Regions from separate parts of the Homo sapiens genome. Here all the other regions are linked to region 3. The links come from fine-mapping of genetic effects on gene expression. A gene starts in region 3. Each other region holds a variant in brackets. All regions are shown on one strand. Distances are from middle to middle.

What was found. PIP is the estimated chance that this variant, and not a neighbour inherited with it, causes the effect.
Region 1: its variant is fine-mapped to the expression of B3GAT1-DT in cerebral cortex (GTEx, PIP 0.91).
Region 2: its variant is fine-mapped to the expression of B3GAT1-DT in spinal cord (GTEx, PIP 0.91).
Region 4: its variant is fine-mapped to the expression of B3GAT1-DT in prefrontal cortex (BrainSeq, PIP 0.95).
Region 5: its variant is fine-mapped to the expression of B3GAT1-DT in hippocampus (GTEx, PIP 0.97).

Annotation. Positions count from the first base shown.
Region 1 is chr11:134,479,907-134,486,250 of GRCh38, reverse strand. B3GAT1-DT (B3GAT1 divergent transcript) reads right to left here. Exons shown (of 6, transcript NR_033852.1): 4 at 5,340-5,406; 5 at 3,521-3,624. Among named protein-coding and RNA genes, the nearest start is that of B3GAT1-DT, 47 kb to the right of the region's middle. The variant G/A (reference allele first, on the strand shown) is at 3,171.
Region 2 is chr11:134,464,376-134,470,719 of GRCh38, reverse strand. B3GAT1-DT (B3GAT1 divergent transcript) reads right to left here. Exons shown (of 6, transcript NR_033852.1): 2 at 3,105-4,380; 3 at 2,733-2,855. Among named protein-coding and RNA genes, the nearest start is that of B3GAT1-DT, 31 kb to the right of the region's middle. RefSeq lists enhancers at 3,592-4,156, 4,157-4,722. The variant A/C (reference allele first, on the strand shown) is at 3,048.
Region 3 is chr11:134,433,276-134,439,619 of GRCh38, reverse strand. B3GAT1-DT (B3GAT1 divergent transcript) reads right to left here and starts at 3,138. Exons shown (of 6, transcript NR_033852.1): 1 at 2,836-3,138. RefSeq lists an enhancer at 78-578.
Region 4 is chr11:134,455,954-134,462,297 of GRCh38, reverse strand. The region is part of intron 1 of B3GAT1-DT (B3GAT1 divergent transcript); the gene reads right to left. Among named protein-coding and RNA genes, the nearest start is that of B3GAT1-DT, 23 kb to the right of the region's middle. The variant T/C (reference allele first, on the strand shown) is at 3,129.
Region 5 is chr11:134,444,258-134,450,601 of GRCh38, reverse strand. All of the region lies in intron 1 of B3GAT1-DT (B3GAT1 divergent transcript), which reads right to left. Among named protein-coding and RNA genes, the nearest start is that of B3GAT1-DT, 11 kb to the right of the region's middle. The variant G/C (reference allele first, on the strand shown) is at 3,268.

The sequences.
Region 1 (6,344 bases), 47 kb before region 3:
CAGGGCCCCTCGGGCTGCACCCTCTGAAGGTCAGGACTCGCTGTGCACTCACAGTGGGACATAGCTGAGGACCCCACTGCTTTGCCTCCGCCCCATGCCAGGCCCTGGGCAAGAAGCAGAGTCTTTCTTCTCTCTCGCCTACTCCCTTTCCCCTTTCTCCCCTTCTCCACTCCTTTCTTTCCACGAATATTTACTGGATGCTTTCTGAGTGTTAGGTATTAGACATGTCCAAGGAGGGATGCAAAGCCCTTCAGACGTGGTCTCCTCTGGTGAGACACTCCAATTCTCTCTGGGAAGACAGACATACATACAGAGAGATGTCATACAGACGGTCACAGCACATGAGTTGGATGGTGGTGCCTAGAAAGTTACAGTCATCCCTGTCCTGGGGAGAAGATGATGGAGGCTTGAAGGCAGGGGCTGCACCTTCAGATATGCCACATTGCCTGTGCACAGGGAGCCCGCATGTGGGGACGTGCAGCTGCCCCTCTCCCACACCTGAGCTAGTCCTGTTTCCCGATCCAGAATTCTTCTCATTGTCAGAGCAACACCCCCAGCTTGTCCAGCAGTGTGTTCTTGGACAATGCCTTCTCCTATCAGGACCTCAGTCTGCAGCTGTCTGAATACAGGCCACAGATGAAAACAGTCTTCCACTCAGGGTTCCTCTCCATTCGGTCTCTCTTCCTCCAGAGGACCCACATCCTTCTGCTGCCCCTGGATCCCCAAGGCCACACACTAGGGTTCCCTCCTGGCTCCCCTTCCCCAAACCTCCACCCAGGCCTGCTCTGCTTCCCGGTTCCCTATCTGCCAGGGGCACGGGGTTGAGAACCCAGCACCACCTTCGACTCTTCTCTTTTTATCCTCCCCACCACCACCTACACACACACACTGCACACGGTTGCCAAAACCATATTGAATTCTTTGGGGAAGAAGGAAGGGAGGGAGGGAGAGAGGATCTTTGGATAGTGCAATGCTTAAGAGTAAGGCTCTGATATCAGATGGCCTGGAAACAAAGATCTAACTATTTTTTTTCTTTGAGATGGAGTCTCAGTCTGTCACCCAGGCTGGAGGGCAGTGGCTCAATCTCTGCTTACTGCAACCACCGCCTCCCTAGTTCAAGTGATTCTCAGCCTCAGCCTCCCAAGTAGCTGGGATTACAGGTGTGCACTGCCATGCCAGGCTAATTTTTGTTTGTTTGTTTGTTTGTTTTAGTAGAGATGGGATTTCACCATGTTGGCCAGGCTGGTCTCAAACTCCTGACCTCAGGTGATCCACCCACCTTGGCCTCTCAAAGTGCTGGGATTACAGGCATGAGCCTCCGTGCCTGGACACAAATATCTAATTTTGGCTCTTCCACTCACTGTGACTTGGACAGCTTCACCTTTCTGCATCTCACTTTCATCATCTAAAAATGGGTTATAATTAATACCTCCGTCATTAAAGTTGTTAGGATGATCAAATGATAGCACATAAATAATAATCCACATATCACCTTGTCCAGGAAATGATCAGGAAATATCAGGGAGTGTTTTTAGGCCATTTGCAGCCAGCAAGGCACACGTTTGAATCCACACCCCATCAGTTACTAGCTGGTGAGCCTTGAGTAAGTTGCTGGTTTTCTCTCTCAGTTTTCTCCTCTCTGAAAAGAGCCATGCAAAAGATATGAGAAGGTCGGCTCTCTGAGAGTGAAGGCCGTGTCTATCCCACAAGTGGATCAAAGAAGCGCTCAATGCATATTGAGTTGGAAGAATGAACGGTGGGAATCGCCTTCACCCGACTGGCTGATTGCTACGATTAGAGTTACCAGTGTGAACTCTCTGCATATGGCAGGCACTTAGTGAGTACTACCTGAGAGTATTTCTTCTCCAAAGGCCACTTGCCGGGGCAAGCTTTCACCACGCTAGACAGCTGTAAGAGCCTCATGACTGTTCTCTGTGCTGCCATCATCAGGCCCTCTCCAATCTTACGCCACCAGATCAGCTTTTCAAAGCACATGTCAGTCTCTGGGTCAGAAACCCCAGCTGCTCCCCTAGAAGTACAGACTTCTGAATCTGGCATTCAGGAGTTCCTCAAGCCCCAAGCCTAACTGCCTCCTGTAAGGATCCTTCATTCAGTTCAACTGAACTTTATTAGGCCACTGCCTCCTCTGGAGACACACCCTCACCTTACTCACACACACGCACCCGCCCATGCACACATACCTCACTTCTGCCATTAGAATTCTGCACATCCATCAATACTTCACCCAGATGCCAGGCCCTCATCTTCAACCACCCTCTATACAACGTTCCTATTGACATGGATTTGAGTCTCCCAGTATTGTGACTAATTGGGTGCTCCGGGTAGGAGCAGAAACTGTCTTTCCACAGAACCAATTTCAGAGCCAAATAAATAGTGGGTTAAATGCATCAGGTTAAAATAACTCATGCCCATCTGGACACTTTTCTTCTTGATTCAGACTGAATCTGAATATGTCATTCCCTCTGTGTCCTGGTCCACAGCTCCGGAGCCCGGCTCACTTCTACTTAGAGCAGCTCTCTGAGTGCAGCTGGTCTAAGATGTTGCCCCTTTGGGACATCATGCCTGCACACTGGCAGGGGGCCTTCAGGATTTTAACCCGTATCGGTTAGACAGAACTTCCGGCCGGAAGGGGAGATACTCTGGATAACCCGTATCGGTTAGACAGAACTTCAGGCCGGAGGGGGAGATACTCTGGATAACCCGTATCGGTTAGACAGAACTTCCGGCCGGAGGGGGAGATACTCTGGAAAGAGGAGCTCTCCAGTGCCCCTCGAGTCCCACTGTGTGTGGGAGCTGATCCCCGCCTGAGAGTTGGCTCTCTAGGAATGGCTGGCCTCGCTGCCTTAGGCATTGGCTGCAGAAGGGCCCAGAAGCCAGAAGCCTCCTGACCACCCCCAGGGATGCTTCTCCAGCTGGGCCACACCCAACACCCCTGAGACCACGACATTGGCAGGCTTCCTATTGGCAGGATGGCCATGGGGATAGAACTCTTCCCAGAACTTTATTCTCCACTTCTGTTTCCAGACCTTTCCCCAGCCAGGGGCTTGACTGGTGAAAGGAAGCTTTGATGGAGATGGGCAATGGATTCAGGGTGGATCAGGCCCTGCTGTATTAGAATCACCAGGCACTCCCTTGGGAATGCAGATTCT[G/A]GGGTCCTGCCCAGACGTGTTCAACTACTCCTGGAATGGGGGTCCAAGGGTCACATGGCCTACAGCTTCCAGCTGATTCCTGTATTCACTACAAACCTTGAGCCCCTCTGGGCAGCCTCAGAGACCTGGGCCCCCAACACTTCTCACTGTGGTGTGTGGTGAACTTTGAGCATTTACCTTCCTGGCGTTTTTTGTTTCACACCTTGCCATCTCTAGAGATTCTTAATTTTTCTGATATAATTTTTACTCAATAGCTCTCTGATACACACTAACCAATAATCAATATTTATACAAATGCTTAGATGGGAAGCGGAGTCCTATTTGAGGGTGAGAAATGGGAAATGACATACCCAAAAAATCCTTGAGTCATTCAGCACACACCCTTGCCTGGACAGAAACATTTTTCAGCCTTTTTCAAACGTGCCTCACTCTTCTCTGCAACTTCTGCTGCCTCCTGGAATGTAGAGAAGAAACCAGCATTCAGAGAAATGTGCTCACATGGATCGATGCCTCATCCACATTACATGCTGACTGCAATCACAAAAAATGGGCCTCACCCTTCTTTTGCTGATGAAATTGAAGTTGGGGCCCATTCATGAGCATGCCCAGGTCTCACAGCAAGTATCTTTCAGAATCAAGGTTTGTGCCCACTCTGAGGCTGTGAAACCCACCTTCTTTCCCTCACCCTCCACCACCTCTTCCCCATCTCTCTGCTTGGGGGAATCCTCAGTGCCCCCCACCCACCCAGTGGCAACCCTCTGAGGGCTCTGCAGACCCCCGCAGGTGGAATCATTGCCTCTCATCTCTCTCCTCCCTGGGGACTTCTCTCTCCTCCCTGGGTACTTCTTTCTCCTCCCTGGGTACTCCCTCCCAGCAGTGGCCACCACTGTTCCTCCTTAAATGAACTTGGCTGCCTGTCTACCTCTGCCACCAGACGGAGTTCCTGGACTCCAGCCCTGCATCTTAAACAGTGCTTTTTCCCCAGACTGGAGGAGTGGCTGACCCACGAAAAGTGCTCAGTGACAGTGGAAGGAATGATGCAGACCTACACCCTTGGGCTGAGAGTGGAGGACAACTTTGCGAGCTTTTGCTGTGGCCTCTTCCAGCTCCTTTAACCCTGAAGAGGCAGGGCCCCAGGGCTCTGAGCTTAACCACCGTTCAGAACCCACACCCTAGGAGCCCAGGCTTGAGGCTGCTTGATGGGAGCTCAGCTCAGGCTCTCCGCTGGTGCATGCACTCTCCTATTTCCCTCTTCTCCACAGCCATACATAGCTTGTAAGGACCTGAATGGACATTGAATGCCTAGAATCTAGCTTCCCCTCATTATGGATTTGATTGATTCTCAACCCTTATTGTACAAAGCAACACAGGCCATTAAATAAGCATGATTTTGGAGGTCCAGCGATTGGACTCAAAGTTGGCTCTGGAACTATACAACGTGTGCCTGAACAGCCCTCAGAGCCCCAAATTCAAGTGTGGAGGGAACGGCAAAGGCATAACATCATGGCAGTTTCTCCTCCAATGACTGGTGTGGCAGGAAGGGAGGCTGACAGGCTCACAGGACAGTCTAGGGGGCACCTGACATTTTCGGGAGTTGTCTAAAGCAGGAGAAGACACAGACCTCATTAATCCCTGCAAAGGGCAGCTCAGGGACCTGGCAGCCACCTCTCACTTCTCCTTGGCTTCCCCTGTGTCTCCTGACAGTCACAGGAGTTTCATTACCATTAACAGCTCTGCAAATTGCACCATCAGCAAAATGCCCAGGTAGTTAATAAACAACTGCACAAGCAAATCCCGGTCACGGACTCTTCTCTCTGCCTCCTAATGAAAGGTGCAACTCTCTGGCATTTCTTCCAACTTCTGGATGTGAGAGGCAAATTTATCCTAAGGGCTCAGGAACAGGACCATCTCTCTAGGCTAGCTGGGAGCCCATTAAACTTGGAAAGGGAAGATCTGTGTTCCATCCCAGGCTCTGATGTCTACCAGTTATATGACCTTGCAAAACTAACTTAATTCCACTGGGTCTCAGTTACTCATCCATAAAATGGAAGCAGTAATAGTATGTACTTCACAGGGTTGTTATGAGGATCAAATGAGATCATCTATGTAATTAATGAAGTGATGGCACAAAATAAGGACTCAAGAAGAGATAGCCATTGTCATTGCTACCTGTCACATGTTCATGACCACGTTGACTCAGCCCATGTCAGGGGTATTGGGAGTTCCAGTCCATGCCCTGAAAACACAGATGAGAGAAATTGCCATTATTATTATTCTCGAGCCAGTGTCTCCCACTCCCTGAGGTCTCAAAGGCCCTCCTTCTCAAACACCCCCATCTGTCTGTTCTCTCTGCCTTCTGTTCCTATCTTTGCTGTGACTCCTCCTTCTTTGTTCTAATCCTGAATCCAGAAGCTGCCAATGCCTGCTGAAGTCCTCTAGCACTGCCTAAAGCAATGTTTTCCCACCGCGGGGATGGGGACCTGGAAGGATGGAACATTGTGACAAAGTGATCCATAAACCAGCTGCGCCCAGACGACTGCTAGGTCTGAGTGTAATCAAGCATTCAGTATGACCATGTGGCCCATTCATGGAGGCCCAGGCCACCTGGAGGCCATAGGAGCAAATGGGATCACAGCCTTAGCTCACACCAACCCCAACCAAAGCAAAGGAGCAGGGATTCACCAGCTTAGGGTCAGAAGGAAATTTGGCTGAGTCTCAAAATTAATAGGGCCCTTGTCCAGCCTGCAGTGTGGATACTGTTGTCAGAGGCCATCTCTGCTGGGGACTGAGTCAGTGTGGGATTGATTTTTAAAGCCTGACTGTCTGCTGATAGATGGTGTGATGAAATGAGAGATATAAATTGTCACGCTTTGCAATCACAGATGCTGTCACTGCAGCTGTCAGGGACTAAGAGGGCAGGCTGGCTGCTGTCATGGGGGTACCCAACCCTGGCAGATTTCCATTTGTCTGGCCAGCATTCAGGAGGACATTTCTTACATGCTAACCCCTCAGAGAAGTGACTGCCAGCAGCTTTATGGGGTGGTGCAATGGCCAGCAGGGGTAGCTCAGGGGGTGCCCTGAGCCCTCCTCCAGAACCTACCAGCCGCATGGCCTTGGGCAAGCTACTGAACCACTGTGCCATAAATCTCATCCTCAGCATAATGATGGTGGTGC
Region 2 (6,344 bases), 31 kb before region 3:
AAATGGGGCTGTGGTTATTTGCACATTACAATGATCAGAAGTAAATAGGCTATATGCCCATTGGAGTGTTGAAGGAACCGTTAATATATTTCTAAAGAAATCTCAGGCCCAGTCTGAGACTACAAAAGCCCGAAAATATGCTGGATTCCCTGGTCCAACATCCCACACTGCACGGTGTCAAAATCATGCATCCTCTGGGAAGGACCAGCTCCCTAGTGCCCACATCAGAGGTGGCAATGGAGGATGATTGACAGGGAGGACCCTTCTGAAGGCGGAGCCAAAAGCCATGAAGACACAGTTCAAGGCGATGCTCCTGGAGACAGTGGGTGGGGACCACATGGGCCAGCCAAGGAACCCAGTCCACTGCCGGACGGAGAGGCCTTTTCACTCCTGCCTAGCAGGGTGGGTCCATCACTGTAAACCAGTGATCTCTGTGTTTCTCTTTCCTCCCTTTTCTGAATGGAAGATTGACATTTTTAAATTGTGGTTATTTTATCTTTCCTCTCAAGGAGAAAAGGTAGGGTAGGTTGGGAAAAAAATGGCCTGTCTTTTAGTTCATAGGTCACCAGCCATGAGAAGCCACATCTGGGACTGATGGAGCAGACTGCCCACACACAAGCTAGATGCAGAAACTGGGTGTGATTTGGGAGTGGTGGCTTGGGAATCAGAATGCGCTCTATGTGGAAGAGCAATGTCTGTGGAAATCAGAGAAAACCACAGTGGCAGATGCAGCAGACATTGCTAGGGGCCTTTCCCATATTCATTCTTTGTTGGTAGCATATCCTTATTTTATTAAGGGTAGCAATGTGCCATTGAAAAACTACATTTCCCAGCTTCCCTTGCTGGTAGTTATGGCCATGTGACTAAATGCCGACCAATGAGATGCAGACAGAAGATTATGTGTGATCTTTGTAGAGAAACGCCTTTTTCCCGCCTTTTCTCTTTTCCCCAGTTTCTACCTAGAATATGAACATGATAGGTAGAGTTGCACTCACTGTCACTGTTTTAGTCCATGAGAAGACCTGAAAATGAAAATAATGTGACAAGAACTCAGAATATAAATACTACCATGTTTGCTCATTGCCAGATTTCTATTACAGGAAGGGTGAGAAACAAACCTTCTGTTTTGTTTAAGCTATTGATCTTCTATATCCTCTTCTTTAGCTGGAAGTAGAATATAATTCTTACCTGATTCAAGCTCATCACCTACGCTTTTGGTGTCAATTTTAGCATCTGCAAAATGGGGATAAAAAAAAAACTATATCCAAGACTTCTTTGTGAGAATTTAAATGACATAATATATTTTAAAAGTCCAGCTCCAAACTTGTCACATAATAATTGCTGGATAAATAGAAACTATTCCTGCATTTACTACTATTACTAGTAGCATTATTATTATTATATAATCACTAATGACTAGGTCAAGCCAAGATCGAAACATAAGTATTCTAACAGCCAAACCTTTGCTTTTGCAGTTTGTAATCTTACTAATTCTCAACACCTTACCCTGAGCTACAGATAGACTCAAAGCACCAGAATAAAGGACAGAAATATTTGAGGCCCAGATGAGGAAGGTTTGCTGCAAGCAGCAGGCAGAGGTTAGAGCAGGATCAACCTGCTTTTTCTGTAAAGAGCCTTATAGTAAACATTCTTGCTTTGCAGGCCATACGGGTTCTGTTGCAGGTGTTCAATGTTGCCATCACAGCATAAAAGCAGCCATGGGCAATGTGTAAATGAAAGAACATGGCTGTATTCCAACAAAACTTTATTTACCAAAAAGGCAACAGGCTGGCTTTGGCCAGCAGGGCCTGGTTTGCCAATCCCCTGCCTAGAGGGATGTCCTGTGAGAAAAGACGCAAAAGAGACATGGAGGAGGCCCTAGTTCTGCAGCAATCTGTCCCAAGGCCCGGAGAAGGTCACAGATGCCCCTGTGCCCCCTCCAGCTTGTCCCCCAGTGCTCAGCACCTCAACACCGTGCTCTTCCTGGGCTCAGAACAAGGCGTGTGCAGCTGCACACCCCCTGCATGAAGGTTTCCTCCTCACCCCCACTCCATCTCACTGGACTAACTCCTACTCATCCTGCAGTTCCCAGCCTAGACGCTTAACTATCACACCTTTCAGAAAACCTTCCCGGCCCCAAGCCCGCTGCACTGTGCTGCATCACCCGGTCGCCTCCTTTGTCACACTCTGCTCAGGCACAGACTCTGTGCTCAGGTGCTAGGAGGATACTGCTGGGGCTCACACTGCCTGCTCAGGAGTCATCAGAGAAGGAAGTTTCAAGCCGGAGGTCAAACACAGGGGGAGCTTGGCAGAATGCGAGGAGAAAGGAGCAGGAGTTTGGGGTCCCAGGGCCAGGCAGAGGCATGCAGGTCAGCTGTGAGCACCTCCTCCTCACCTCCCCTCTGCCCCAGCGAGCAGCATCTGCCCAGTCCCACTCCCTGTAGGCTCTCTGCCAGAGGCCGCATCACCAGCAGGCTGTTAACCTTGGTAATGAAAAGCAACAACTTTATGGGCACCAGAAACTGGCGAAGCTCATCAATTTTATTCATAATAGAAAATTATTGCTTGAAGGCAGGGCACAGTGGCTCATGCCTGTAATCTCAGCACTTTGGGAGGCCAAAGCAGGCAAATGGCTTGAGGTCAGGAGTTTGAGACCAGCCTGACCAACATAGTGAGGCTCCGTCTCTAAAAAATAAACATACGAAATATTAGCCAGGCATGGTGGTGCTCACCTGTAGTTCCATCTACTCAGGAGGCTGAGGCGTAAGAATTGCTTGAGCCTGGGAGGCAGGGGCTGCAGTGAGCCGAGATTGTGCCATTGCACTCCAGCCTGGGCAACAAGAGCAAACCTCCATCTCAAGAAAAAAGAAAAAAGGAAATTAATATTTGGAAAGAGTAAGCCAGCAGCAGTAAGGACCTCTGGTTTCAAATTGTTCTGTGAGGAAAATGCACTAGGAGAGAAGAAAAGACACACACACAATACCCTTAAGGGTGAACAAGCTTTATCTCACATAAATGGTAATGCAGATATAATACGCAAATGATAT[A/C]AGCAAATTGCAATGGGAAGGGGAGAAGGGAAAAGACATATATATATTTACACTCACCAGACTACGGAGGATTCACCACCAGACTGGGAAGCAGCAGGCTGGGCTCCAGAGTCAGACACTCGTTCATGCACAGATGAGGAGAGGTCTCACAGAGCTTCAGTGCGGTCTGGGACCTGAGCTCTGTTGTTACTTGTTACAAGTTGTTTGTCATGAGGCCCAGTCACGACGGCACTTCATGATTGGGCTCAAGGAACACAAAACGGGCAACTTGCTTTTGCGATTGTCTGTTGTTTTTCAGTAACTAACGTATAGGAATAAATTGAAATAGAGATTTCTCCAAAACAGCGCTGGATGAACCCCTGAAGAGGCTCACACAACCTGTTCCGGGACTTGGTGACCATTGTTTGTGTCCACATTCAGTTGAGTCCAAATTAATATTTAACTTTTCCTCCACACAAATATGAGCTGGGAGGTGCGGAGTTTCCTGACATTGAGGGTTACTTTCCCCTTTATTACACCGCACCAGAAGTACTGTCTTATTTTTATGGGGGTATTCTTTGTTTTCCAGTTCCAGGAATTCCATTTGTATTAGGAGGAGGTAGGGGAGGACAGTCTACCTCTGTCCTTTCCCCTCCCCTCATGTCATTGGAATGAAGAGGGTATGGGTGCAGCCCACGGCGGGCAGCTTTTCCTCCTCTGGCCCTAACCCACCAGACAGCATCTGGTTCTCAACGCAGAGCTTTGGGGAGTGGGGTGGGGGAGAAAACAGGAATGGAGAATAGAAGAAAAGAAAGAGAGAAGGAGGGAGGGAGAGGGGAGAAAATGCAGCGCTAACTGGCATTGACCAAGAGCCAAGCACGAGCTAAGCACGTCATGGGCTTTACCTCTTTAATCTCATTTAACTTTCACAACAATCCTCTGAAGTTAGAATGATTTTCCGTGCTCTCGAGATGAGGAAACTGTGTCTCAGGAAAAGTAAGTAAGCTCTCAACACCTGTTACTCAAACCTGGGCCTTGAGACTCATGCCCGTGCTGCCCAGGGCAGCCCCCTCCATGGTGCCCACCGCGGCCGCCGGCTCTGCAGCCCCTCGCTCACTCCTGTCCTGCAGCCCCGTGCTGAGGCTGCATTCTGGCATCCAGGATCCATCCGGAGCTGCCGTGATTCCAGGGCGGCTCATGACTGTATAATTAAGGGGAAGGCAGAGGCGTCGCCAAATAGGACCAAGGGCCGACTGCAGGAGCTGCCAATCCTCCACACAGACGCACGCACGGCGCTCCTCTGAGGGGTGGGGAAGCCGTGGGGCCTCCTGTGGAGAAGCACATCCCATCTGCACTGCAAGAGGAAGCGTTTTGGTTAAGAAACAGCGCCTTATGCTCTTCACACAAATTCACCCAGACTCAGGAGTCAACAGCTGCTTGACTTTCCTGAAAACGGCTGGTGCAAGCCCTTCTCCAGGAGCACATGAAGTGGCCAGTCATGGCTGCCTCTGCGGAGAGGAAAACATGCTTGAAACTGAATTGCTTCCAGAAGGGAACTGTAACAAACTGTAACAAATCTTTTAATTTGACCCTCCCGCTCACTGTGTAGAAGGAACCCGTGGTGAATTTTGGCTGGATATGGGGCCACTGGGGCAATGTGGTTTGGGTTATGAGTGTGAGCTTCAGTGTGGCACATACCAGGCTCAAATCCATACCCTACTCTCACTGCGCTTACTTCAGATAAGTTCTTCAACCTCTGGGTAAGGCTCCATGCTAATAAGCTGTAATAATAACCCTGACACAGTCACTGTAAGGACTGAAGAGGCGACACATGGGTGGAACTAAGCACTTGGTAAGCCCCCCATACATGTGGGCAGTTACGGAGCAGAGAGAATGCAGGCCTGACACTGGGAGGGCAGGTCAGGGGTTGTTTTTTGCTGGGACAATTCTCAACATGTGTTTTTCCCTACAACCACCCTACTTCACCTATCATTGAGACGTAATTGAAATATGGCTTCTCCCAAAATTCAGGAAATCAGGGTCTAGAGAAGTTCTATTGTTAGGCATAGGCATATACAGTGTCATATGGTCTCCACTCCACCCACCCCTCCTGCCCCAGCAGATCCAGCATGCCATGCCTGGAAACAGGAGAGCTTCACAGGGCACTTACGGAATCCACCAAGCATCTCCTCCTAAGGGCCACTAGGACCAGCCCACAGACATGGGAAAGCGCTGACTACCTTGTTTGCTGTGATGTTTCAGTACATAACTCCTGTTCTCCTAGAGCATTTCTCTTTTGTAAGTGAATTGGTATAGTGCTTGAATCCAGAAGGAGGGATCCTGGACTCCCCTCGTAAGCTCCCGGGAGCTTAAGAAATCAGCTGACAATTTCCTGTTGTCGAATTGTTCTAGCAGCATGAATGCGTCCAGCATAGACTCTCCCTGGTGTGAACTGGCCTGAAAGTTTTTACACCATCCTTTGGCAAGGAAGATGAGAAGCTTTTCCGTGAAAGAGTACACACAGCCCATGCATGACATAGCTCCAGGTATGTGCTCATTGTGATAGGAAAGGGCATCGGGAGGCCGAGCACCTTCAGCAAGAGGCCTGTGAGAAATGATTATCTAGAGGGTGTCGCTTCCATTCCCAACTCATCCCAGGCAGAGGTGATTCTCACCTTGCATTCGGGGCCACAAATGAGCGCTCTTGCAAATAGGCAGCACAGAAGAGCATCTTCATCCAGACCTCTTAACTCTCATAGGAAACATTAAGGCCATGACTATCCCATCCCAGGACTTTATTATGGTGTGTTTTAAATGCCATTCACCCTCCAGGTGGCCCCTCTGCTCACAGAATAAGTTCTCTGTGGTCTTAAATCTGTTAGCAAAATGAGGATGTAAATCCTCAGTGACTTGAGCCTGCTGTTCATATTTCTGAATAATCTGGGAATTTTGAAAGCTTGGAGGTGACTGACCCTGATTTTAAAATGTACCCAGGATTTATTTTAATTGGACACGACAAGGCCAACAGATCAGGAGACGCTTGTCTTTGAAAAGATAGTTTGTTACAGTTCCCAAGAGGAGGGGCAGTCCATACCACCCCGCTCAGGGCCATGTGGAGAAGCACCAGGTCAGTCAGGGGTGGGGACGAGAGGAGAACTTGGGCAAAATCCTTGGGAGTGGTGAAAAGGAATGGGGAGGCAGGGGGAGGGCTGGGCAGGCTCAGGCCTGGGTAGTTTGGGATTCCAGAAGGCTCTGGTTACACGGGCAGTCTCTAGCTGCCCGGCACCTGGCCCTGAGATGATTAGGGCAGGGAGATAG
Region 3 (6,344 bases):
CTCTGCCCTTGAGGACGGGATATCCTGTGGGGAGGTGGACACTACACCACATGAGGGCAGCATGGTGGGGTGGGCACCAATCCACACAGTGCAAGCTACCATGAGACACGCCTCCCGATCACTGTGTGTGTTAGGTGGCATTGCAGGCGCCCTGAATGTCCCCAGCCTTGACAGCCACATGCAGTCAGCAAAGGCCACCTCCAGAAGGCGCAGAAGGCAGGCATGTGATGACTCAGAGCATTTTCCAAGAGCAGTGGCAGAAAAGCAGCCCAATGTTGCCACCACCTGTCACAGCCTGGGTCGGCCCATTCGAGGCAGCCAGTCATACACCATCCATCAACAGGGAGTTGGGTCCCACATCCCCCTCCCTACTCCCCAAAAGACAACCAGAGCCAAAGCTGGCAACGGCTGCCACCTCTGCACTGCGTCAGTGAACAGACCCAGCTACATGGGAAGAGGGGTACTTGTCACCTTTTGTGAGGGTGTCTCTCAGCTTGGCTTCAAAACCCACATTCCCACCTCTTATCTCCTCCTGGAGACACAGTACACAGCTAACATGAAAGCAATTAATTGAGGCCTTTTACCAGACCAATGCGCGTTTCACTCCATGTAGTACCAAGTTAATTATTTAATAGCACAGAAATGCCAGCAGCCTGTGTGGGCTGAGGCTGCCGTGAGCAGCAGAGAGAGCATCTTTTCCACTCCTCTTCATTGGTAAGGAGGCCACAGGTCGCACTGCCCAGGGGCCGAGTCCACACCTGGAAGGGCCCACGCCTTCTGCAGTCGGCACCTCCCCCCGGGCAGCCAAGCAGGCTGGACTGTGGACTCTGCCCAAGGTAACTGCTCATTTGTTTTTCCCACTGTATGGACGAGGAACCGAGCTCTTCCTCCATGATTCAGGAGGGCAAAAGGGGCAAGAGCCCTGCTGGACTCTACGCCTCCTACCACAAGTGGGTTGCCTTCAAGAGGACTCATGGGAGAACAAAGGCAAGGCCGGTGCCAGGCTTGCAGTCAGTGTGCCAAGTGGATGAGCATCCCTTCAGTCCCAACGGCCAAGCAGGCAGCTAGCACAGGCCACGGGAGTAAAATCGCAACAAGTAGACAGCATTCCCGGGAGCACTGCAGGGTCAAGAAGAAATTTAAATCAAGTCTGTGCGCTCAGAGATGACAAACTAGTTGGGAAAACACGTCTTATGCACGTGAGTGTATACGCAACCACAGAAGCCATACACAAAACACCAAGTACACGACCCAACAGGTCAGTCCTGGGAGACCAGAAGACACCAAGCTGACAGCACACTAAGGCAGGCAGGGAAGGCTTCCCGGGGAAATGGAGATGAGGTCGGGCGGTCCCACAGCCAGTAAGTGTTGAAGCTAGGTTTTGAACTCAGGGAGTCCAGCTCCACAAAGCTCATCAAATTGTGATTATTCATCACTGTCTCTATGTCTTTACAAGTGCTGTCTTTTTAATTATTACTATACGTCACTGTGACATCAATGGGGCTTTCACAGAAAACAACCACCTGGAACGCAACGCCCGCGAATCAAAACTGTTGGTCCTGTTCCTGTTCCCCTCTAGTCCAATCTCTGCCTTGGTACAACTGTTCCCATGCTGTTTGGCCCACAGCTGCTGCTGAAGCCCGACCAGCCTGCCCATGCCAGCCCCTGCCAAGGACTCCCAGGCCCCCTTGCACCCAGCGACTGGAAAGGTAATGCCTAACGGCCCAACATCTTTAGAGCTGTAATCTGTCACCTCGCAGAGGAGTGCTGATGGTGCCCAGACAGACTGCTCAGTTATGCCTCTGGAGTGGGAGGTGCAGGAGGTCACCATGGGCTTTGTGCGGAACCAGGAGAAGCAGCCCTGGCTGTGAGATCAGGCCTGGCGAGGACAGCTCCTGCAGTGCCAGCTCTGCACCACCTCCAAGTGCTGCTGCCTCTGGCATGGGAGGTGTTATCATGGACACCATAAATGTGGGACCTTCAGGACTGGTGACAATTTTGATGGGCTGCACTAAAAAATCTGTAAAGGTGGTTAAGATTTAGCATGACTGACTGCCTAAATGCTTCCTTTCATGTGTCTATAAAAGTGATATTATCAAAGCGGAGCTCTGGGACGATTAATCTGGTTGCAGTTCTCAAGGAGTCCAGGCAATATTACTGCCAGGCCTGGAGGTGTGACCGGGGGGTGTGGGTCAGTGTGGCCATGGCCCTGGCAGGGGCAGCGGGGAAGGAGGGTGAGCTAAAGACGCTGGGTTTCATTTTGAATATGTTGAGTTGGAGGAAGAGGTCAGCCTGGAACTTAGGAGCGATGGAAGAGCCAGCATTCTTGCCTTAGCTTGGGGGTGAGGTTCCCCTTGCTCACTGCAGTTTCTCAAGGCCCGAGGCTTTGCGCTGTGGAAAGAAGTCTGAAATTTCAGGGACAGGGACAAGTGTTGCATGGGAACCTCCATGGGAAAGACAAGGTGGTAAGGAGAGGTCTTTGGGGCTGCCGCCTCCCGACCCCCACTGAAGACAGAAAGGAAAAGGGGCCAGAGGGAGATTTGTCTGGGGAGTAACGGGCAAACTGAGAATGCCATCCGCTGCAAGCTACAGCCACCCTGGGCTCTTCACACGTAGACAGAGCCGCCCCCTCCCATCAAGCGTTGCGGGCCAGCACTGCAGGACCCTGGCCTACAAAGGCAATGGGCCTGTGGCTGGCGTCACCCTCCCTCTGGGCAGCCGTGCAGGCACCCACAGGCCCTTGTGACTTTGGTCTTTTGAGAACTATGACAGTTCTGCCTGTAAGGTATGTTTTTTCTCTGTTTCTTTCTCAGCCACCATCACCAAGCTACTTACCACTTAGAAAGGGGAGTAAAAGTCAGGCCTGGAAGCAAACCCCGAGGAAGGCTGGGCTCAGCCTGTTGTGGGCATGGGAGGGCCTCTCTGCCTGAAAGCCGTGAGAGGTGAAGTCCAAGGATGGTCACTGAGGCCTCAAAGGTCTCCTCACTGTGCCACTGAGTCAGATCTTGAGTTCATCCAGGCTTGTGGGGACCCAGAGGACAGAAGATCATGGCTGTTGCCACCCATCTAGAAAATTGAGCCTCTTTCCACGTGTCCTTGGCCTGTGAGTACAAGCTGTCTGATCTGTTGATTGGAGGCTTGAGACAGAACACAGACACAATCCCATCAGGAATTTTCCAGAAGCCTCTGAGATGCCCCCTCCACCCACAATGCCCGAAATAGACAGCTCCCTCAGCGAGCAGACCTCTGGGGTCACAGACCATTTATAAAGGAGCGTGGTGCTCACTAATGCGGCTTTGGAGCTACAGCAAAGCGTAGCAAAAGCCTTGGGAAAAGTTCAGAGTGAGATTAGATCGAGGCTTTCTTGTCTGGGCAAGGCGAGGAGGCTGCCGTCACCTGGCTGGCGGGGAGACCTTAACCCCATGAACTTCAGAGTCTGGCCCCTTGGCCCAGTGCACCCTGGGAAATCCCCTGACTGCTGCACTGGGGAGTGACTGTGGTGAGGGACGTGTCCTCCCCCAGGGCCTCTGCCCTCCATTTGCCTCACAACCCAGGGCCCAGCACAGTCGGGATCACCAAGGTTAGAGCTGTTTCCTCCTCTCAGAACCACAGAGGGGGCCCTGAAAGTGCAAGATTGGAATGCCACTCCAAATGCCACGTGGCTTCCCTGGGACCCACTAACTGGGCAGCAGGGACCTCAGTGCTCTGGGAGGAGTTGGTGGTCCTGACGCTATGCACCCCTTTGGGCAGAATGACCCCCAGGGGACAGAGGCAGCGAGGGGCATCACTCAGATTACCTGGTGGACCCTCACACACCACTCTCATTAAATAGGTAAGAGAATAAAAGCTCAGAAAGGTTCGGTGAGCTGTCAAGACATATGGGGCAAGCCCGTGTTCTAGCCCAGATCTGTGTGAGGTTGAAGCCTTTGAAGGAAGGGCATGGCCCATGAATAAAGGATGTAGCCAAAGGGATCCAGAAGAGGTAGGCTTCAGAATTCCACCCACTCATGGACAGCCAGGTCCCAGTGAGGGCCAAGAAAGACCAGCTCCCTACACCATGAGCCTGGCTGAGGAGCCAGCCTGGAACCCTGGGAAGGAAGGGATCTGTGCTCCATTTGGGCACGCAGAATCATGCCTGATCCCAGACAGACTTTATGTCATCAGCTTTTCAGCTTTACTCTCCAGGATGGTGGATTTGATAGAAGAAGGAATTGTCTGGGTTGTATGTCCAATATGCAATTGTATTGTATATGGGACATCCTAGTTCTCGCTCCTCTGCCCCATCCCAGCTGCTTCCCTATGAAATCAGCAGTGGTTCCCCCGACCCGCCCTCCCCTGCTCTCTCCCATCACCCAGGCACTGCAATCTCCCACTCCATCTCCTCATCCCTTTACCCTGAGCCCCTTTCTGGTGGCCCCCAGATATATCCCCAGGGTTTTTTTGTTTTGTTTGTTGTTGTTGTTGTTGATATTGTTGTTGTTTTTGAGACAGAGTCTCGCTCTGTCACCTGGGCTGGAGTGCAATGGTGCGATCTTGGCTCACTGCAACCTCCACCTCCTGGGTTCAAGTGATTCTCCTGCCTCAGCCTCCCAAGTAGCTGGGATTACAGGCACCCACCACCGTGCCCGGCTAATTTTTGTATTTTTAGTAGAGATGGGGCTTTGCCATGTTGGCCAGGCTGGTTTCAAACTCCTGACCTCAGGTGATACACCCACCTCGGCCTCCCAAAGTGCTGGGATTACAGGTGTGAACCACGGTGCCTGCCCCCCGCCCCCAACCAACAGGATTTTTTGTACATTACAATGGCATGACCCAAACCCTTCCCAGGAGCAGAAAGGGCTGAGACTACCAGCCAGGTCCCACCCAGGGACCACCCTGGGAACCCTGGGCACCTGTACCCACCTCACACACTGCCTCTGACCGGGCACAAGAGCCAAGCCCCATGCACCAAGGATGGAAGAGAAAGCCTGGGAGATGTTCTCTCAGCAGGATCGCTGTCTTAGAGGCTGGACCTCTCTGTGGCTATGATGCCCCAGCAACTTTTATAAAAAGTTATCTCAGTGCCGTGCTGCTCTCAGAGTTGCTGGGATCAAAAGAACAGCTTTACTCAGGGGGAAAAGACAAGGGACCGAAATAGTCAGGATATATACAGCCAGTTGGACAGCGCGGCTCTGCTAAACTGGATATTTGGGTTTTGTTTTGTTGTGCCTTTTTTCTCTCCTTGCTGAGATGCTTGGAGGAGGTACTGTGGGGTGCAGACCACGCCACTCTGCAGGAGGAGGGAAGTAGGAGCCGTTGCTTCCTGATAAAGAGTCGGCAGAAACCACCTAGGTTGATACTAGGTCCTGAGCTCAGACCCCTGTCTTAGCAGGTAAGTCGGATGGGAAAATAGGCATTCTCCATTAGTAATGGGCTCTCCACCCTCTAGGACTATTCAGGTATTTGACTGCTGCTCCAATATGTCTCTACGGGCCACAGGTACACGTGCCATCCAGGTGCACAGACTGTAGGAAGACTCAGGCGTCTGCCCCTGCCACCTGCGGCTGCCACACGGAGTGACGCCCTGGGTGGGAGTCATGCCTCCTGTGAGGCGTGTCATGAAGGCGCCCGCCTGGGGACCGAGTCTGCACAAAAGTAAGGGGCCCTGCCCCCAGATGCAGACAAGGGTCTTCTCTGGACAGACATGGCCCCAGAAGGAAGTTCTCCTCTCTAAGGGTGAGAGGGAAATGGACCAAGCCCCTGCTTCTTTGTGACAGATTACTTGCAGGGATGGCAGTATTGAACAATAATGTTAATAACAAAGTTATCATTACATATATCACAATTAATAAAGCAATTTATATTTATTAGGCACCTGCTATGTGCATAGTACTCTGTATGCAATATGAAAAGAAAGCATAACATGGCCAACCTGTAATCTATAACACGTTAAAGACATCCTCAAAATGCCCTCAATTCATTCCTTATTCACTCATTGACTCCATATTTGATGGCCTCACCTATTTGACCCCAACACTGAGCTAGACATCTCCAGAGATGCTAAGACAAGGCAGATAGATTTTCTAGCCTTATAGGGAATACATTCTGATTAATTGACTCAAATTATGATGCACAAAAAGCCATTGTGGGTGCCCAGGGAAGGGCGTGACTACTGAGCTGCGCCTGGGAGTGTTCAGTAGGAGTTGGACAGCTGGAAAGGGGAGAAGAGAGTGTTCTATGGAAAGAGGACAGTATTATCATCACATTGGCAAGGGCAATGCAAACACAGTAACAAATAACTGGCCATAAAGGACAAAATGTGATAAATGTCAAATGAGTGTTTCACTTGGTAAGTGCCAGAAAAT
Region 4 (6,344 bases), 23 kb before region 3:
CAACCCATTAGGATGGAAATCAGCTGCAGCACTGGAGCAGCATCCTGAAGTCACTGTCTGAGTCTGTATTGTGCTGCTGCAATGGAATACCACAGTCTAGGTCATTGATAAAGAACAGAGATTCATTTCTTACAGTGCTGGGGGATGGGAAGTCCAAGGTCGAGAGGACCTCATCTGGCAAGCACCCTCTTGCTGTGTCATCCCATGGTGGAAGGTGGAAGGACAAGAGAGTGCAAGAGAGCAAGAGACAGAGAAGGGGGACTGAACTCATCCTTTCCTCAGGAGCCCAATCCCATGATAACTAACCCACTCCCAAGATGAGTAACTGACTCCCACAATAACTAACTCACTCTCAAGATAAGTAACTGACTCCCACAATAACTCACTCACTCCCAAGGTGAGTAACTAACTCCCACAGTAACTAACTCACTCCCAAGATAAGTAACTGACTCCCGTGATAACTAACCCATTCCCAAGATGAGTAACTCACTCCCACAATAACTAACCCACTCCCAAGATAAGTAACTGACTCCCATCATAACTAACCCAATTCCAAGGTGAGTAACTGACTCCCACAATAAGTAACCCACTCTCAACATGAGTAACTCACTCCCAGGATAACTAACCTACTCCTGAGATAAGTAAACTCACTCCCAGGATAACTAACCCACTCCAGAGGTGAGTAACTCACTCCCAGGATAACTAACTCACTCCTGAGACAAGTAACTCACTCCCAGGATAACTAACCCACTCCTGAAGTAAGTAACTCACTCCCAAGATAACTAACCCACTCCTGAGATAGTAACTCACTCCCAGGATAACTCACTCACTTCCAGAATAGTTAACTCACTCCTGAGACAAGTAACTCACTCCCAGGATAACTAACCCACTCCTGAGATAGTAACTGACTCCCAGGATAACTAACCCACTCCCAAGATGATGGCATTAATCCATTCATGAAGACTGAGCCCTCATGACCTAATTACCTCTTAAAGATCCCATCCCTCAAAAGTGTGCATTGAGGATTAAGTTTCCGACACATGAACCTTGGGGGACACACTCAAACCACAGCAGACATTAATCTATAAATTCCTGAATGTGGGAAAAGGTAGAGCTGGTCCCAGGGAAGTCAGTGGCAGGGTCCACAGCCTTGGGAGACTCAGACAGGCAGCTGTCTGCCAGCTGGTGTGGGTGGGCTGTCATGTTCTAACTCGAAGACAAACTGTGCAGCCCTCACCAGCCTGGCATCACCACCAGCATGCCATGTGTGAGGCAGAAGGCTTCCAGGTTCTCAGTGGTCTTCCATCTTTGTTTGTGGTTTTCTAAAGCTTTACAATTTTATGTGATCAGAATGATCTATCTTCCTTCGTGCTTCTGGAAGGCCTTAGCCACCAAAGATTATACAAATATTCATTCATGTTTTTGTTCAGTATTTTTCCGGACTCCTTTGAATATGTAAAATCTCAGAGAGTGAATTTCCATTTTCCATGGCTGTTCAGCTTTTTGAGCAGATACATTCTCATTGCCAGAAGGCCTATTCTGTAGGTTACAACTTAATTTATACAAATATATATAAAGTATATATATACCAATGTATAAATATAATATTTATATCTGCAATAAGAAATAATAGGTCTTCAGTTGCTCCACAGTTCTGTGGTGCATGCCCAGCTCCCTGAGGCCCACAGATGAGCCTGGGTCCCGTGGGTCATGCTCAGAGCTCCCTGAGTCCCTCCTGAGCACAGCTCCCCATTACATTTACGGGTGCTTATTTGATGAATGGTTGTGTCTCCCACACACTTCAGTAAGTTCCACAAGGACAGACAATGTCTCAGCTCACCATTCTGGCCCCAGAGACAAGCACAGAGCTGAGAGTAGAGTGCATGCCACAGATAGAGAGCAGGAGGGAAGACGGAGAGAGAGTGATGAGAATGAGCCGGGGGTGGGGAGACAGAGAGCAAGAGAGAGCAGGGAGGAAAGCAGCATCAGTCTTTGTGCCTTTGTTCCTCCCCACCCCCAGCCCATCACTCCACTGGGCTCACCCAGAAATAGGTGCCCAAAACAGATGGTTCAATTAAATTGAATATAGTTGAATTGCAGGTGGCTGTTCGGCTCCCAGAACCCAGCGTGCAGACGCGCCTGTGACTGACCACCTATGCAGTCTCCAATCTAGCTATTTGTGTATGTCTCTTTCTCTCATGAGACTGGAAAGTCCTCGAAAACAAGGACCTTCTATCATTCATTCTTATATCCTCGCCCTCCTTACACTGAGTTTGAGCTCAGAAAATGTTTGGCAAATGAGAGACAGAACCGTGCAGCACCCTAGCCTGAGCCTGGGGCAGCACAGCCTGCAGCAGCCCAGCCTCCAAGGCTCCTCCCATCAGGTCTCAGCCTCAGCAGCTCCCTCGCCCCAGCCAACATCCCTACACCTCCATCCCACATTAGCAATAGTTATTGGATGTGTAAATTACCATCAATGGAGTGACAAAGACTCAATTAAAGAAGGAGATCTGAAGTCAAAGCTGTCACCTCAGAGAAATCAGCCTTGACAGATAACAGCAGCAGCTCTGCAGGGCAAGTACTCAGAGGTAAGGGCTGGAGGGACCCCTTTCCTCACCCCTGGCCCGCTTTGTGTGGGAGAAGGGTGGGATCTGTCAGGGACTGCTGTCACCTCCCTGCCCGGGCAGGCCCTGAGGAGGGCCGGGAGCCACAGGGAAGCTCTCTGCATCATCCACCTCCTCCAGCCCTCTGAGAAAGAAGAGCCTGAGCAAAGATGCAGAGAACACTTGGCTGAGCTGGCACCACTCAGCAAGCAGCCTCCTGCGAGGGGGCCATGAGAGGGCACTGACCCTGCACTACCGCTGCACATCTGCACAAGCTGGGCATTCAGGCCAGAGTGCAGGGTGGCTGCTGGCCATGTCTCACTGCTGCCAAGCCCAGGGCAATGGTGGGAGCTGCGCGACTTCCCCATGCCTCCATGTCCCTGCTTATAAAACAGGACCTTTCCAAGAACAAGGTAGCTGTGGTCAGAGGAAAGAAGCACACACTCTGTGCTTCCATGTTCACCCAGCACCAGCTGACTAGGGGCTGCCAGCTCACCAGGCCATCCTCACTTCCTACTTCTCCCA[T/C]GCTGCCCCAAGGGGTCAGGCCCTGGCTTCCCCTCAAGCATCCTCCAAGCCAGTATGACACATGCCGAGCCTGGCACCTCAAAACCTGCTCCCTCACAGTTCCCACAGAACATTTTAGCCTCATCAGCCCACCCTTGAACAACCCTAGGTCCCAAACCCAGTCCTACAGTCCTACACCCTATAAACATTTCTCACAGTTCCCACCTGATTTCATTCCCCTTTTTGTGCAATCCCACAGCAAATTCCACCTCAACACTTCTTATGCTATACTATTTTTAGTTTTACATTTTCATATTATTATGTTAATATGAAATATTATTCATATAATATTACTAATTATTACATTATTAATATTAATACCACAAGTTTACATGCTCTTAGAGGGCATCCTTGATATACGTCAGCTCAATAATATGCACATATTATAGACTCAGGGAATGTATTTTGGATAGATGAATGAACACATACCTAAATGAATAAATCAACATAACTTACCAAATCCAGGTCTGTAAAAAGAGAATTACAATGAATGGGTTGATGTGAGGAACACTTATTATATAATGAATAATAGTGTTTTGCAATCTGAAAATAATTATCCAAGAGTGTACTATTTTTTCTTTTTTAATTTGGAGACGGAGTCTCACTCTGTCTCCCAGGCTGGAGTACAGTGGTGTGATCTCGGCTCACTACAACCTCCACCTCCCAGGTTCAAGTGATTGTCCTGCCTCAGCCTCCCGAGCAGCTGGGACTACAGGCACGTGCCACCACTCCCAGCTAATTTTTGCATTTTTAATAGAGATGAGCTTTCACCATATTGGCCAGGCTGGTCTCAAACCCCTGATTTCGTGATCCACTCGACTCAGCCTCCCAAAGTGCTGGGTTTACAGGCGTGAGCCATTGCACCCAGCCAAAGTGTGTACTATTATTGAAGTTATCTTTACAAGTTCTCTCCCTATCTGTGTTTTCCGGCAGCAAAAATACTGTGACACCACAGTGACAGAAGCCTTAAGCAAGGACGGTGTGACAGGACAGAAACAGAGGCCTTAGGCAAGGATGGTGTGACAGCACAGAGACAGAGGCCTTAGGCAAGGGTGGTGTGACAGCACAGAGACAGAGGCCTTAGGCAAGGGTGGTGTGACAGCTCAGAGACAGAGGCCTTAGGCAAGGGTGGTGTGACAGCTCAGAGACAGAGGCCTTAGACAAGGGTGGTGTGACAGCACAGACACAGAGGCCTTAGGCAAGGATGGTGTGATAGCACAGAGACAGAGGCCTTAGGCAACGATGGTGTCACAGCACAGAGACAGAGGCCTTAGGCAAGGATGGTGTGATAGCACAGAGACAGAGGCCTTAGGCAAGGATGGTGTGACAGCACAGAGACAGAGTCCTTAGGCAAGGATGGTGTGATAGCACAGAGAAAGAGGCCTTAGGCAAGGATGGTGTGATACAGCACAGAGACAGAGGCCTTAGGCAAGGATGGTGTGATAGCACAGAGACAGAGGCCTTAGGCAACGATGGTGTCACAGCACAGAGACAGAGGCCTTAGGCAAGGATGGTGTGATAGCACAGAGGCAGAGGCCTTAGGCAAGGATGGTGTGACAGCACAGAGACAGAGTCCTTAGGCAAGGATGGTGTGATAGCACAGAGAAAGAGGCCTTAGGCAAGGATGGTGTGATAGCACAGAGACAGAGGCCTTAGGCAAGGATGGTGTGATACAGCACAGAGACAGAGGCCTTAGGCAAGGATGGTGTGATAGCACAGAGACAGAGGCCTTAGGCAAGAATGGTGTGACAGCACAGAGACAGAGGCCTTAGGCAAGGGTGGTGTGACAGCACAGAGACAGAGACCTTATGCAAGGGTGGTATGACAGCACACTTATGAAAGGTCTTAGGAGGAAAGATAGCCATTTAAAGCCAAGGTTTGAGTCACAGTGAAGCAGTGGTTTTGGTTTTTTGTTTAGCTTTATTTTGTTTTCCAAGCAGGTTATCCCTTAAGTGATTTTTCTGTCCCTTAGGTCGCATTGCACTCCTAGACATTACCACTCACTGAGGCCTTTTCATGTCCTGGAATACCTTGAAAATAGACCAACTAGAGATGGGTAGAAGAGAAACAGAAGGGAAGGCTATGCACAGGCTACATTTATGATCACGGTGGGAGAGAAGATTTGTAACAGACAAGAATACAAACCTCTCACACTGCAAAGAAGGTTGCCCCTTCCCACACGCACTAACAGAAGGGCCTCTGAACCCCCACTCCTCCCACCTGCCAGCATTGTCTTCTAAAGACAAAGACCCCTCTCGCCTTTCTAAGTGGATATTGACAAATGAGGGAACATGTATGCTCACAAAGGAGGAGAGCTCGCATGGCCCACAGAGCTTGAGCTCCTCAAAAGTGGAAGAAATCCCATGGGAGAAGATGGACTTAAGCGACAGGATGAGGCTGTTTCTTCACTCTTGGTAGTTAATGGAGCATCAGGCTAGAAAACCAGACCTTGCAGTACCTCCATTTCTGATAAAGACCACAGAACCCCTTCCTGAGCCTGGAGACCGCATGGTGGTAGGAGAGGGGGGTTGGAAGGGGGAAAGTTCACAGCCCTCGTGGGACTATCACTCAGCAGCAGAACAGCATCTGTCAAACGCATCACACTGATTCCTGAGATTCTGTTTTACTTCCAGCAATATAAGTCAATATAGGTAAAAATGAGAAACTAAGTTTAATCAAGCGGCAAAAACAGAAGAAATCATGGCATTTTTCAATACGCTCGAAATTACTTTGGCAATCCTCGAGTGCTCTAGGAGTCCCTGTCAAGCATGCCCAGAGGAACACAGTGGCCATCTGAGGCTCTGCAGAACTGCTGCTGCAGCCTCTGGAGAAGCACCCACCCCAAGTGCAGAGAAGGAAGATCCAACCACTAATCTCAACCCTTTCTGAAAAAAGACATGCATTGGCCTACACACATGTGCAGAATTTCACTATTTAAAAAAATTTGGCATACATTTAATGGGGCACCTCTGTTTCCTCCTAAAATGCAGGTAGATGGAATGTATTACAGTATGGAATTTCCTTAGAAGCAAGAAAATACAGTGCAGCATTTGAGTGTCTGCTCTGGCCTAGGCACTGTGTGAGGTATCAGAACTGTTGCTGAAAAGGGGTCCCAATCCAGACCCCAAGAGAGGGTTCTTGGATCTCGTGCAAGAAAGAAATTGGGGTGAGTTCATA
Region 5 (6,344 bases), 11 kb before region 3:
CCCACAGTGAGTAGGAGCCAGGGTAAATCAATGCTGTGGAGCTGGGTTCTAATCTTGGAGGCTCCCCAGAAGCCCCCTCAGGGTACAGAGAGGCCCTGAGGGTGTCCCATTGTGTGAGTAAACACAGGGAACCTGGTTTGCCCCCAAACAAGAACGCGGCAGAAGGCTTCCTGTCGGAGCGTTGGATACCAGGGAAAGACACTGGTTTGCTGCCGTAGGCACCAGCAGTTTCCCTTCTCCAGGTGCTGAGTCCACTTCCTCCTTCCTTTAGCTCCTGCCCCTGCCCAGGTAGCATCCCAGCCTCAGAAGCGATTAAGCCATCCAGACCCGCTCTGCAGGTTAGTCACTAAAGAGGGTTCAACAGGCACTGGGGGCAGACACTCAAGACATCCAGGGTTATGGGCAGCCATGGGCTGTCTGAGCTGTCGTTTAGCGATAGACTGTAATTCTAAACATGGTGTTCGTTATTCCACTGTGTGGCTTCTAATTAATTTCCAGAAATGCATTGTTGAGGGATGATGGGTTGTGCTGGAAGAACCACTAATACTGCTCATTCATCGCTGCCCATGTGCGGCCGAGCCCAGAGCCACTGACTCCGGAGACCCTGGGCTGCACTGCAAGGACCCGAGGTGACTGCTCCATGCCTGGTAGTGATGATGTCAGTGGCACCACCTCACCTGAACCTGCAGGGGCACATACCTGGGTCCTTCCAGGTACCACCGTTGCCACAGACAGGAAGGTGGCGCCAGAGGATGTCCCCCTGAGTAGTGAAGGATGCCCAAAGTAATTGATCAAATTTTGTGAAAAGGAAATTGCTTGGGGTGGATATAAGGTCCTGCACATGGGGCTGCAAAAGCCAGTCACATGAGCACAGGGAAAAGGTTGAGTTGACAGTGAGAGTCACTAGGTAGGCAGCAACCAGCCACCTAGAAAGCTGGTGCAAAAGATAGTCTGCATAAAGAAAAGCAAGTTATCTCTAAATATAACTTTGTTTTACATGGGTCACACTGCTCAATTCTAACCAACCTATTTAAAAAGATTATATTAGGGGTTTCCGAAGAAACAGAACTATTTTAAGGAATTGGCTCAAGCAATTACAGGGGGTTGTAAGTCTGAGATCCATAGGGCAGGCCAGCAGGCTGGAAATTTAGGTAAGCGTTGAATCCCTCCTTCTTCAAGAAACCCTAGGTTTTGTTCCTAAGGCCTTCAACTGACTGGATAAGGTCCCCCACCCCACATTATGGAAGGTAATCTGTTTTATTTCTTTACAGTCCACTGATTGTAAATGTTAATCACAACTACAATATCCAACTGCAATATCCAGACCAGTGTTTGACCAAACAGCATGCACCATAGCCCAGCCAAGCTGACACAATAAACTCCCAAAGAAACATTAGCATATCAGCCTGAATTCTTTTTGTAAGACACTCCCAAATGTATTGCATTGTTTTACATGCTACTTATTTTAAAAGAGATTGCCAATTAAAGTAGGACATGAGGCATTCTTATGACAATTTTTATTTTATATTTATTCAAAGAGTTGTTTGGGCTTATTTGGGTAATGCTCTTTCTTTTTCTTTTTTTTGAGACGGACTCTTGCTCTGTCGCCCAGGCTGGAGTGCAGTGGCGTGATCTCGGCTCACTGCAACCTCCGCCTCCTGGGTTCACGCCATTCTCCTGCCTCAGCCTCCCAAGTAGCTGGGACTATAGGTGCCCACCACCATGCCTCGCTAATTTTTTGCATTTTTAGTAGAGATGGGGGTTTCACCATGTTAGCCAGGATGGTCTCGATCTCCTGACCTTGTGATCCGCTCGCCTTGGCCTCCCAAAGTGCTGGTATTACAGGCGTGAGCCAACTTTTTCTTATATATACTCTTCTACATAGGTAAAAGGAAAAAATATCTGTAAAGTAAGGTAAGATATTCTTAAAAGTTCACATTCAGAATCAAAGTCTGCTGTACCACTTTTGCATTCAGAGCTGGTGATGTTCAGATCTTTCCACTCAATGTTGTCTCTGCATCACAAGTCTGGCTGGTGCCGTGTTTTATAGGAAACAATATGAGAACTAGAAGCCACTGGGAGCACTTAAGTGGGTTTTGCAATTATGTAGAGCTAGCCTACTTTTGACTCTTGCTTTGGGAATATTACTAAGCATGCCTAACTCACTATCACCCACAGCTGTCTGATTGCTAGGGCCTAGAAAATCCACCTGTATTGTCCTCTGGGTGGTTTTCTAGGCCACTGACACCCATTCTGCAAGTTTTGGGGCTGGAGCCTCTGATGTTTACTCAAGTGCCAGCAATGGGCACTCTTCATGGCCAACACCTAGATAAAGCCACTGTGAGGAGTGGTGGCATGTTCTTATTGCAAAGGTACTAAAATTCGGGAAGGAAATGACTATACCACACTAAGGAGACACATTTATACCAAGTGATGACTGAGGTCTTGCCATGTGGTGGCCACTGGCCTAAAGCCCCACACACGTGACCACATTTAACCCACACAGCAAACATATCGAGGGTGTGCTGCCATCGTGCCCAGCTCGCAGGTGCGATGAGAAGGAGCAGAGGGGTGAAGCGGCTTGCCCTGGTGTACACCAGCCAGGGAATGAAGCCAGCAAGTGGCCCAAGCCACCGCGCCACCTGTGCTAGGAGAGGATAGTGTCCACAGCGCTCCAAGCGCGCTCCTGGGAAGGGTTCTGATAATCCTACCCAAAACTGATGGGGGAACCCGAGACAGCAGGGCCTCGCAGCGGAAGGGCCGAGTCCGAGGCAGTGAGCGCCCCGCGCGGGCGTTTCTACCTGTGAGATGGCTGCGCTAGGGCTCCGACACCAGCCAGGGCCCCACGGAGGGAGCGAGGGCGCATCCAGTGCACCTGGCCCAAAGTAAGCTGCGTCAGCTCGCACGCAGAGAACCTGAAGACTGCTTCTGCTTCTCCTCTTCTGGGTGTAGGAATCCTTTGAAGAGGAAACTGGCACACATACCTCCCTGAATGAGGCACGGCTTCACACCAGTAGGAGAGAGAGAAAGTCAAAGTCTCTAGGCTGGGTGCAGTGGCGCACGCCTCTAATCCCAGCACTCTGGGAGGCTGAGGCAGGCGGACCTCCTGAGGTCGGGAGTTTGAGACCAGCCTGGTCTCTACTAAAAATACAAAATTAGCTGGGCGTGGTGGTGCACGCCTGTAATCCCAGCCGATTGGGAGGCTAAGGCTGGAGAATCACTTGAACCCAGGAGGTGGAGGTTGTGGTGAGCCGAGATCACACCATT[G/C]CACTCCAGCCTGGGTAACAATGAGCGAAACTCCGTCTCAAAAAAAAAAAATAGTAAAAAGAAACAGGTGAAAGAAAGTCAAAGTCCCAACTAACAACAAGGGTATGAATGTTTTGTTCCCCTGGATAAACACTATGAAATCATTATCGGCCTCAAAGATGTTACTAGACAAATATTGTATCTCCCTTTCACCTGATGAGTATCACAGGTCATCTCCTCTCCAGCCCAAGTGTCACAAGGCCTCTCACGACAGCTGACTGCAGGGAACGCCTGCAGGGGTCTCAAACTGAACTTCTGTATGAGCAAAAGCCTGTAATCGTCATGCGTTCAGAAGTGGGTATGTGTTGGTCCTCAGAGTCTGACTGGAGAGGATACTTCTCCCTTCTTCAAATGCAGTCCTTACAAATTACAGTTTTACTTTAAAATTCTGAGTATTTGGCTGGGTCCGATGGATCAGGCCTGTAATCCTAGCACTTTGGGAGGCCAAGGCGGGCAGATCACGAGGTCAGGAGTTCGAGACCAGCCTGGCCAACATGGCAAAACCCTGTCTCTACTAAAAATGCAAAAATTAGCTGGGCATGGTGGTGCACGCCTGTAATTCCAGCTACTTGGGAGGCTGAGGCAGGAGAATCGCTTGAACCCGGGAGGCGGAGGTTGCAGTGAGCCGAGATCATACCACTGCACTCCAGCTTAGGCAACAGAGCAAGACCCCATCTCAAAAAAAAAAAAAAATTCTCAGTATTTTTACCCTGACTCATTATCCAGTAGGGATTGGAGCCCAGGGGTCTATGGATCATAATAACTAGAGGGGCTGTTGAACTCAGGACTTTAGGGAGATAGCAAAAGGGTTTCTGGAGAATGCCTGAGGCCACATTCTGTAAGGGGAAATACATAGTTTCTCCCACAAGGCGACATGCAGTGACTATAAAGACACTGTATGGTTGTGGTGCCAGCTCCAGTTCTTCCTCACTAAGAAGACTATGTAGAATGTTTCTTTGATATTTACCGAACACCCTCTCAAGCCCTGTGTTTGGCAGCATCGTCTCTGATCCCATCTGGACCTCTTCTGGAGACCCAGGTGGACTGCACGATGCTGGGATGCCACCCTCTCCTCCACCTTCACTCGTGCAGCTCAAAGCACAGCTGTTGATACCATGGTTTTACCTGCCGACACCTGTCAAAGGCTCAGCTCGCCTTCTCACCTTCTGCAAGTGCAGCCGCTTTTGTCTCTCTGAACCTAGCTCACTGAATGTGTACCTGGGTGTCCTCCCACCCACCACCACCACCAGCCCTTTCTCTCCCAACTGCTGGCCCTGTCTCACCCAGTGAGTTCCAGAGTAGGCGACAAGATTGGGCTACTGAAATGGTTCTTGGGCAAGTCACTTTGTGAAAAGGGAAAAACGAACTCTCCCACACTCAACATAGAATGCTTCTGTGACCAGATGTGTTTGCGGTTTTCCCTGCATGCCAAGCAATTCTGCAGTGGGCACCAGCTGGGTGTTCAATAATTCAATCCCGACACTGTCATCCGGAGATAGCATCAGATCCCACAGGTTTCCGGCTAAGTCACACGGGGTTGCCCTGCTTCAGATGCCACTTGCAAGTGTCAGACTAGGGCCTGTGTGTCTGACAAACTCACTATAAATCAGGGACCCCACAACCCCCCGATGGATCTGATCATTTGCTAGGACGGCTCACAGACTCGGAGAAACATTTTATTTAGGTTTGCCAGTTGATTATACAGACTGAATATTGGTTCACAATTACAAAGGCTACAGAACAGCAGCCAGATGCAGAGGTGCACAAGGTGTGGGGGTTGTGGAGGACGCACATTGCTGCACCCTCTCTGGGTGCCCCTCTCCAGCACCTGCACATGGTCAGCAGCCTGGGAGCTCAGCAGCCTGCGAGCTCATCTAATGGTGTTGCTCAAGTTTTTACCGAGATGAGGCCAGGCACCAAGGCTCACGCCTGTAATCAGGAGGCCGAGGTGGGCAAATCACCTGAGGTCAGGAGTTCAAGCCCAACCTGGCCAACATAGTGAAACCTTGTCTCTACTAAAAATACAAAAAAAATTTCCAGGCATGGTGGCAGGCACCTGTAATCCCAGGTACTCAGGAGGCTGAGGCAGGATAATGGCTTGAACCTGGAAGGCAGAGGTTGCAGTGAGCCTAGACCAGGTCACTGCACTCCAGCCTGGGCAACAAGAATGAACTATGTCTCAAAAAGGAAAAAAAAATGTTTTTACCAAGATGAGTCTCCAGGCCGGCTTCCCTTCACAGGGGCTCAAAGTCCTAAGCCTCTGATAGGGTTTGGCTCTGTGTCCCCACCCAAATCTCATCTTGAATTGTACTCCCATCATTCCCATGTGTTGTGGGAGGGACCCAGGGGGAGATGACTGAATCACAGGGGAGGTTTCCCCCATGCTGCTTTCATGGTAGTGAGTAAGTCTCACCAGATCTGGTGGTTTATCATAGAGGAGGTTTCCCCCATGCTGCTCTCGTGGTAGTGAGTAAGTCTCACGAGATCTGGTGGTTTGTCATAGGGGAGGTTTCCCCCATGCTGCTCTGGTGGTAGTGAGTAAGTCTCATGAGATCTGGTGGTTTGTCATAGGGGAGGTTTCCCCCATGCTGCGCTCATGGTAGTGAGTAAGTCTCGCGAGATCTGGTGGTTTGCCATGGGGGAGGTTTCCCCCATGCTGCTCTGGTGGTAGTGAGTAAGTCTCACGAGATCTGGTGGTTTGTCATAGGGGAGGTTTCCCCCATGCTGCTCTCGTGGTAGTGAGTAAGTCTCGCGAGATCTGGTGGTTTGTCATAGGGGAGGTTTCCCCCATGCTGCTCTCGTGGTAGTGAGTAAGTCTCGCGAGATCTGGTGGTTTGTCATAGGGGAGGTTTCCCCCATGCTGCTCTCATGGTAGTGAATAAGTCCCGCAAGATCTGGTGGTTTGATAAGGGGAAACCCGTTACCCTTGGCTCTCATTCTCTCTCTTGCCGCTGCCATGTAAGAAGTGCCTTTTACCTTCTGCCATGATTGTGAGGCTTCTCCAGCCACGTGGAACTGTAAGTCCAATAAACCTCTTT